Linked DNA regions of Homo sapiens. The protein of the gene in region 1 purifies or fractionates together with the protein of each later gene. This does not show direct contact. Each region holds a gene or a part of one and is shown on either strand. Other genes may lie near its edges. The genes, in order: TLE6 and NLRP7.

What was found.
Region 2: the proteins of TLE6 (region 1) and NLRP7 purify together in Homo sapiens (co-immunoprecipitation; one study listed by IntAct). This does not show direct contact.

Annotation. Positions count from the first base shown.
Region 1 is NC_000019.10:2,990,955-2,994,763, forward strand, and holds part of TLE6 (transducin-like enhancer protein 6), read left to right. Parts: intron 1-888; coding exon 889-1,030; intron 1,031-2,477; coding exon 2,478-2,628; intron 2,629-3,064; coding exon 3,065-3,141; intron 3,142-3,809. UniProt on the Homo sapiens protein: Component of the subcortical maternal complex (SCMC), a multiprotein complex that plays a key role in early embryonic development.
Region 2 is NC_000019.10:54,944,480-54,948,831, forward strand, and holds the start of NLRP7 (NACHT, LRR and PYD domains-containing protein 7), read right to left. Parts: upstream 3,052-4,352; 5' UTR 2,990-3,051; intron 1-2,989. UniProt on the Homo sapiens protein: Inhibits CASP1/caspase-1-dependent IL1B secretion.

The DNA.
Region 1 (3,809 bases):
ACTGCACTCCAGCCTGGGTCACAGAGTGAGACTCTGACTCAAAAAAAAATTTTACATACATACATACATACATACATACATACATACATATATGTATACACACACACATATTAAATATATGTAAATAGGCTGGGCATGGTGGCTCATGCCTGTAATCCCAGCACTTTGGGAAGCCGAGGCGGGCAGATCACCTGAGGTCGGGAGTTTGAGACCAGGCTAACATGGAGATACCCCATCTCTACTAAAAATACAAAATTAGTCAGGCGTGGTGGCCCATGCCTGTAATGCCAGCTACTCGGGAGGCTGAGGCAGGAGAATCGCTTGAACCCAGGAGGCAGAGGTTGCAGTGAGCTGAGATCGTGCTGCTGCACTCCAGCCTGGGCAACAAAACGAGACTCCATTTCAAAAAAAAAAAAAATACGTATATATATATATATATATACACACACACACACACACACACACACACACATATATATAATATATGTATTTATAACATATAAGATATCTATCAGCATATGTTTGCAGGAAGCAATGGCTGACGTAAAATACAGCACACCACCCGCCCGGCACTATTCCCCTTCCCTGCTTGAAGGGATTCCTGTAGACCTGCCTCAGAGCTCGGGTGGACTCAGGGTGGAAGAGGCAAGGGGAGGCCTAGGTGAGGCCAAGGGGAGGCCCAGGCGGACGGAGAAGGGAGGCTGAGGGCTGGGAGGGGCCGGCACTAGATCCTGTGTCTGTTTTCTGCCAACTTTGACACTCTGTGCAGGCAGAGATTTTTGGGTGGTGGCACTGTCCCTTTCATGCCCAAATGTAGTGACTGGTGTTTCCGGGGGCCCAAACCTCAGAGTCTTGACCTGATTGCCTCCCGATGTCCCTTCTGGCCAGGGACCTCAAGGGTTATCCTGATGGAGTCAAGAGTATCGTGGTCAAGGGCTACAACATCTGGACTGGGGGTCCGGATGCCTGTCTGCGGTGCTGGGACCAGAGGACCATCATGAAACCTCTGGAGTACCAATTCAAGTCTCAGGTGCGGAGGCCGGGATGGGGTCTGCTTGGCCAGGCATCCTCTGGTCCTCAGATTAAAAAATGAGGTTGAGGCCGGGCTCCGTGGCTCACGCCTATAATCCTAGCACTTTGGGAGGCCAAGGTGGGTGGATCACCTGAGGTCAGGAGTTTGAGACCAGCGTGGCCAACATAGTGAAACCCCATCTCCACTAAAAATACAAAAATCAGAGCTGGGCGCAGAGGCTCACACCTGTAATCCCAGCACTTTTGGAGGCCGAGGAGGGCAAATCACCTGAGGTCGGGAGTTCAAGACGAGCCTGACCAACATGGTGAAACCCCGTCTCTACTAAAAATACAAAATTGGCCAGGCATGGTGGCACATGCCTATAATCCCAGCTAGTCGGGAGGCTGAGGCAGGAGAATCGCTTAAACCCGGGAGGTGGAGGTTGTGGTGAGCCGAGATCGTGCCATTGCACTCCAGGCTGCGCAATAAGAGCGAAACTCTGTCTCAAAAACAAATGAGGTTGGCCAGGCACAGTGGCGTATGCCTGCAATCCCACCACTTTGGGAGGCAGAAGTGGGAGGAAGACTTGAGCCCAGGAGTTTGAGACCAGCCTGGGCAACATAGTGAGACCCTGTTTCTACAAAAAATAAAAATAAAAATTAGCTGAGCATGGTGGCACGTACCTGGGGTCGCAGCTAGTTGGGAGGCTGAGGTGAGAGAATGGCTTGAGCCCGGGGAGGCTGAGGCCACAGTGAACTGTGATCATACCAGTGACTGTAGTCCAGCCTGGGTGACAGAGTGAGACCCTGTCTCAAAAAAAAAAAAAAGGGGGGGAGGCGGGTGGGGGGGGGGGAGGATGAACTCTGGGAAGGAAAAAAGGTAGTGGTTCTAAGTCTCACTGATGCTCCAAACACAGAGATCATTAGAAATATTCTTTGCAGGCCGGGCGCAGTGTCTCACGCCTGTAATCCCAGCCCTTTGGGAGGCCAAGGCGGGTGGATCATTTGAGGTCAGAAGTTCAAGAACAGCCTGACCAACATGGTGAAACCCCGTCTCTACTAAAAAAAAAAAAAAAAAAAAAAAAAAACAGAATAATTAGCCAGGCATGGTGGCGCATGCCTGTAGTCCCAGCTACTCAAGAGGCTGAGGCGGGAGAATCGCTTAAACCCCAGGAGGCAGACGTTGTCGTAAGCCGAGATCGTACCATTGTACTCCAGCCCGGCAACAGAGCGAGACTCCGTCTCAAAATAAACACTCATGCTGTATCAGGTGCAAAGTAGGGAAGACTCTCCATTTTACACACCAACAAACTGAGGCACAGATACGAAGTTGCTTGTCCCAGGGCTGCACAGCTAGGAAGGGGTCAGTCACCCGGCCTCCAGGATAGGTCCCCAGGCTCCTGCCTGCTTCCTGGGCCAGGCTGGGACCTAACCAGGTTCCTCCCTCCCCACTGCCCATTACCTAGATAATGAGCCTGTCCCACAGCCCCCAGGAGGACTGGGTGCTGCTGGGCATGGCCAATGGCCAGCAGTGGCTGCAAAGCACCAGCGGGAGCCAGCGGCACATGGTGGGGCAAAAAGACAGCGTCATCCTGAGCGTCAAGTTCTCCCCCTTTGGTAAGCGGCTGGCGGAAGATGAGGGGACTCCCCTGCAGCCCCCAGCCTCCCACAAGACCCCACCTAATGCCAGCTCCCCACCCAACCCTCTAGGACACCTCAGAACCCTTCTGTAGCAGAAACCAATTTTGGGGATGCTCTTATAGTGGAATGAGGGAGGGAAGGGGGTGGGTGCCTGGGCCCTTCCTCCCCACCCGCCCCACCGGCGCGGTCCGCCTCCGCCCTTCCCCCTTCAGCCACTGGTGTCCCCATGAGCCCGGGGAGGCTGAGGCCACAGTGAACTGTGATCATACCACTGACTGTAGTCCAGCCTGGGTGACAGAGTGAGACCCTGTCTCAAAAAAAAAAAAAAAAAAAAAAGGTGGGTGGGGAGGATGAACTCTGGGAAGGAAAAAGGTAGTGGTTCTAAGTCTCGCTGATGCTCCATTTCTCCCAGGCCAGTGGTGGGCAAGCGTTGGAATGGACGACTTCCTTGGCGTCTACAGCATGCCGGCGGGGACAAAAGTGTTCGAGGTACTGCGGTGGGCTGGGGGCAGGACCCGGGGGTGGCCCCAAAGGGACCAGCCTGGGCAACACAGCAAGACCCTGTCTCCACAAAAAACTTAAAAAGTAGCCAGGTGTGGTGGCTCACGGCTTTAATCCCAGCATTTTGGGAGGCTGAGGCAGGAAGATCTCTTAAGTGTAGGAGTTCGAGACCAGCCTGGCCAACATAGTGAGACCCCATCTCTACAAAAAATAATTAGCTGAGCCGGGTGCGGTGGCTCACGCCTGTAATCCCAGCACTTTGGGAGGCCGAGACGGGCAGATCATGAGGTCAGGAGATCAAGACCATCCTGGCTAACACGGTGAATCCCTGTCTCTACTAAAAATACAAAAAATTAGTTGGGCGTGGTGGTGGGCGCCTGTAGTCCCAGCTACTTGGGAGGCTGAGGCAGGAGAATGGCGTGAGCCAGGGAGGCGGAGCTTGCAGTGAGCCAAGATTGTGCCACTGCACTCCAGCCTGGGTGACAGAGACTCCATCTAAAAAAATAATAATAATAATTAAAAACACTTTTAAAATTAAAAATAATAATTAGCTGAGTGTGGTGGTGCACACCTGCGGTCCCAGCTACTTGGGAGGCTGAGGCAGGAAGATTGTGTGAGTCCAGGAGGTCGAGGCTGCAGCAAGCTGAGATTGCACC
Region 2 (4,352 bases), about 52 Mb from region 1:
GTCTCCGAGATGGTAGAGATAATGACCAATAAATACTGAAGGAACTCAGAGACCCGGCCGGCGCGGGTCTCCTGAGCCCACTTTTCTTTCTGTGTACTTTGTCTCTGTGTCTCTTTCTTTTCTCAGTCTCTCGTCCCACCTGACAAGAAACACCCACAGGTGTGGAGGGGCAGGCCACCCCTTCAGTGAGGTATAATTACATATATCCTATTTTAGGATGGAGCAGGAAGAGCATGAGAGCCCAGGAGTTCCAGACCAGCCTGGGCGACACAAGGAGACCTTGTCTCTATTTTTTAAGTATTTTTAAAGTAATATATACAACGTTTACTTGTCAAAGTGTACAGCATGGAGCGATGTTATATATACAGTGAAATGATTACCACAATCCAGCTAATTAACATATCCACTGCTTCATATAGTTGCCTTTCGTTTTTGCAGTGACAACGCTTGATGTACTTAGAAAAATTCAGGGTTTTTTGGCCAGGCACGGTGGCTCACGCCTGTAATCCCAGCACTATGGGAGGCCGAGGCGGGCAGATCACAAGGTGAGGAGCTCAAGACCATCCTGGCTAACACGGTGAAACCCCGTCTCTACTAAAAATACAAAAAAAAAATTAGCCGGGCATGGTGGCGGGCGCCTGTAGTCCCAGCTACTTGGGAGGCTGAGGCAGGAGAATGGCTTGAACCTGGGAGGCGGAGCTTGCAGTGAGCCAAGATCGCGCCACTGCACTCCAGCCTGGGCGAGTGAGACTCCCTCTCAAAAAAAAAAAAAAAAAGAAAAGAAAAGAAAAATTCAGGGTTTTTTTTTTCTTTTTCAGAAAGTCTTGCTCTGTCGCCCAGGCTGGAGTGCAATGGTGCGAGGCTTACCACAACCTCCTCTTCCCGGGTTCAAGCGATTCTCCTGCCTCGGCCTCCCAAGTAGCTGGGATTACAGGTATGCCCCACCACACCTAATTTTTTTTGTATTTTTAGTACAAACGGGGTTTCACCATGTTGGCCAGGCTGGTCTTGAACTCCTGACCTCAGGTGATCTGCCCACCTCAGCCTCCCAAAGTGCTGGGATTACAGGTATGAGCCACCAGGCCTGGCCAAGTATTTTTTTTCCCAAGTACATTTTTTTCTTTTTTTCTTTTTTTTGAGATGGAGTCTCCCTCTGTTGCCCAGGCTGGAGTGCAGTGGCACAATCTCGACTCACTGCAACCTCCACCTCCCAGGTTCAAGTGATTCTAGTGCCTCAGCCTCTCAAGAAGCTGGGATTACAGGCGCACCGCATCACGCCGGGCTAGTTTTTGTATTTTTAGTAGAGACAGGGTTTCTTGTTTTTTTCTGAGATGGAGTCTTGCTCTGTCACCCAGGCTGGAGTGCAGTGGCGCGATCTGGGCTCACTGCAAGCTCCGCCTCCCAGGTTCACGCCATTCTCCTGCCTCAGCCTCCCAAGTAGCTGGGACTACAGGCGCCCGCCACTATGCCCAGCTAATTTTTTTTGTATTTTTAGTAGAGATGGGGTTTCACCGTGTTAGCCAGGATGGTCTCGATCTTCTGACCTCGTGATCCGCCCGCCTCGGCCTCCCATAGTGCTGGGATTACAGGCGTGAGCCACCGCGCCCGGCCGAGACAGGGTTTCTCTATGTTGGCCAGGCTGGCCTCGAACTCCTGACCTCAGCTGATCCACCCGCCTCGGCCTCCCAAAGTGCTGGGATCACAGGCGTGAGCCACCGCATCTGGCCATTTACATTTTTTTTTTTTTTTGATGCAGCATTTCACTCTGGTTGCCCAGGCTGGAGTGCAGTGGCGCAATCTCAGCTCACCGCAACCTCCGCCTCCCGGGTTCAAGTGATTCTCCTGCCTCAGCCTCCCGAGTAGCTGGGATTACAGGCATGTGCCACCACGCCCAGCTAATTTTGTATTTTTAGTAGAGATGGGGTTTCTCCATGTTGGTCAGGCTGGTCTCAAACTCCCGGCCTCAGGTGATCTGAAAGTGCTGGGATTACAGGCGTGAGCCACCGCGCCCAGCCTACTTTTTTTTTTTTTTAAACAGGGTCTTCATCTCATCCAGGCTGGAGTGCAGTGGCTCAATCACACCTCATTGCAGCCCCCACCTCCTGGCTCAGGTGATCCTCCCACCTCACCCCACAAGTAGCTTGGACACAGCACAAGGTCTGGCCTTCTTTGTTTTTTGAGACGGAGTCGCACTCTGTCTCCCAGGCTGGAGTGCAGTGGCGCGATCTCAGCTCATTGCAACCTCCCCCTCCTAGGTTTAAGCTATTCTCCTGCCTCAACCTTCCAAGTAACTGGGATTACAGGCATGCACCACCACACCTGGCTAATTTTTGTGTTTTTAGTAGAGACAGGGTTTCACCATTTTGGGCAGGCTGGTCTCAAACTTCTGGCCTCAAGTGATCCACCCGCCTCGGCCTCCCAAAGTGTTGGGATAACAGGCATGAACCACTGTGCCTGGCCTTATATTTTTTTGTAATGACAGAGTTTTACCATGTTGCCCAGGCTAGTCTCAATCTCCTGAACTCCTCTAAACTATATTTGAATAGAAGTCCTTAAGACATTAGGCCAGGCGTGGTGGCTCACACCTGGAATCCCAGCACTTTGGGAGGCCGAGGCAGACAGATTACCTAAAGTCAGGAGTTCAAGACCAGCCTGGCCAACATGGTGAGACCCCGTCTCTACTAAAAATACAAAAATTAGCTGGGCATGGTGGCACGTGCCTGTAGTCCCAGCTACTCAGGAGGCTGAGGCAGGAGAATGGCGGGTGAACCCAGGAGGCGGAGTTTGCAGCGAACCAAGATCACGCCACTGCACTCCAGCCTGGGCGACAGAGGGAGACTCCGTCTCAAAAAAAAAAAAATCAAAGATCCTTCCAGCATCCTCGCACCAACCATTAAGGCTTGGGAAGGGCTATGGTGGAAACTCAACCAATAGCTTCTTCTCCCTTAAACGAGAAGACAAAGAAATCGATGCAAGAACCAGCACTCACCTCCCTCAGGTCAGGTCTTGCTTCCAGCCTGTGTTTCCTGCAAAGGAAACGGATAAAAAGGGGAGGTCTCTGGCCCTTGGTACGCTAGGTGGAGAGACAGCTTTCCCGCCCAGGGTGGAACCGCCCCACTGAGATTAACATTGGGTGGCTCCCAACCACTGACCTCAGGCTCACCTTGACATCACCTGGGCCCCATCCTCAGGGATTTGGCTGTAATTGGGCTTCAGTGGGCTTTGGAGAATTACGGCTTGCTGAATCTCCCCAGGTGAGATTAATGTGCAATTCCCTTCCTAGACCACCCGGGCCAGGTGTGATAGGCGACAGAACAGGAAATACACATTTTGGGTTTTGCAGGGTACCTGGCTCCCAGCTTTAAAAACTCTTGTAGAGAAAAAAAATTAAACAAAAATAAATAAAAATTAAAAAAAAAGAGGACAAAAACTCCCGTGACTTCCTAAGTTACAAATACAATAAGTCTACTTTGTGGCCAACTGTGGTGCCTCCTGCCTATAAATCCCAGCAGGCTGAGAGGCCTAGGCCAGTGGATCCCTAGGGGCCAGGAGTTTGATACCAGCCTAGGCAACATAGCAAGATGCCATCTCTTCAAAAATATTTAATAATTAGCCATGCATAGGCTGGGCGTGGTAGCTCATGCCTGTAGTCCCAGCAATTTGGGAAGCCGAGGCGGGTGGATCACCTGAGGTCAGGAGTTGGAGACCAGACTGGCCAACGTGGTGAAACTCTGTCTCTACTAAACATACAAAAAATTAGCCAGGTGTGGTGGCAGGTGCCTGTAATCCCAGCTACTCGGGAGGCTGAGACAGGACAATCACTTGAACTAGGGAGGTGGAGGGTGAGTGAGGCACGATCACGCCATTGCACTCCAGCCTGGGTGACAAGAGCAAGACTGTCTCAAAAACAAAAACAAAAAAATTAGCCATACATGATGGGCTGCACCTGTAATCCCAGCTATTCAGGAGGCTGAGGTGGGAGGATCACCTGAGCTCAGGAGTTTGAGGCTGCAGTGAGCTGTGACTGGCCATCTCACTCCAGCCTAGGCCACAGAGTGAGACCCAGTCTCAAAAAAATAAATAGATAACTGATATTTAATTTTTTTTTTTGGATGGAGTCTTGCTCTGTGGCCCAGGCTGGAGTGCAGTGGTGCAATCTCCATTCTTGCAACCTCTGCCTTCCAGGTTCAAGCAATTCTGATGCCTCAGCTTCCCAAGTAGCTGGGACTGCAGGCACATGCCACCATGCCCAACTAATTTTTTGTATTTTTAGTAGAGACAGGGTTTCACCATATTGGTCAGGCTGGTCTCAAACTCCTGATGTCAGGTGATTACAGGCATGAGCCACCGCA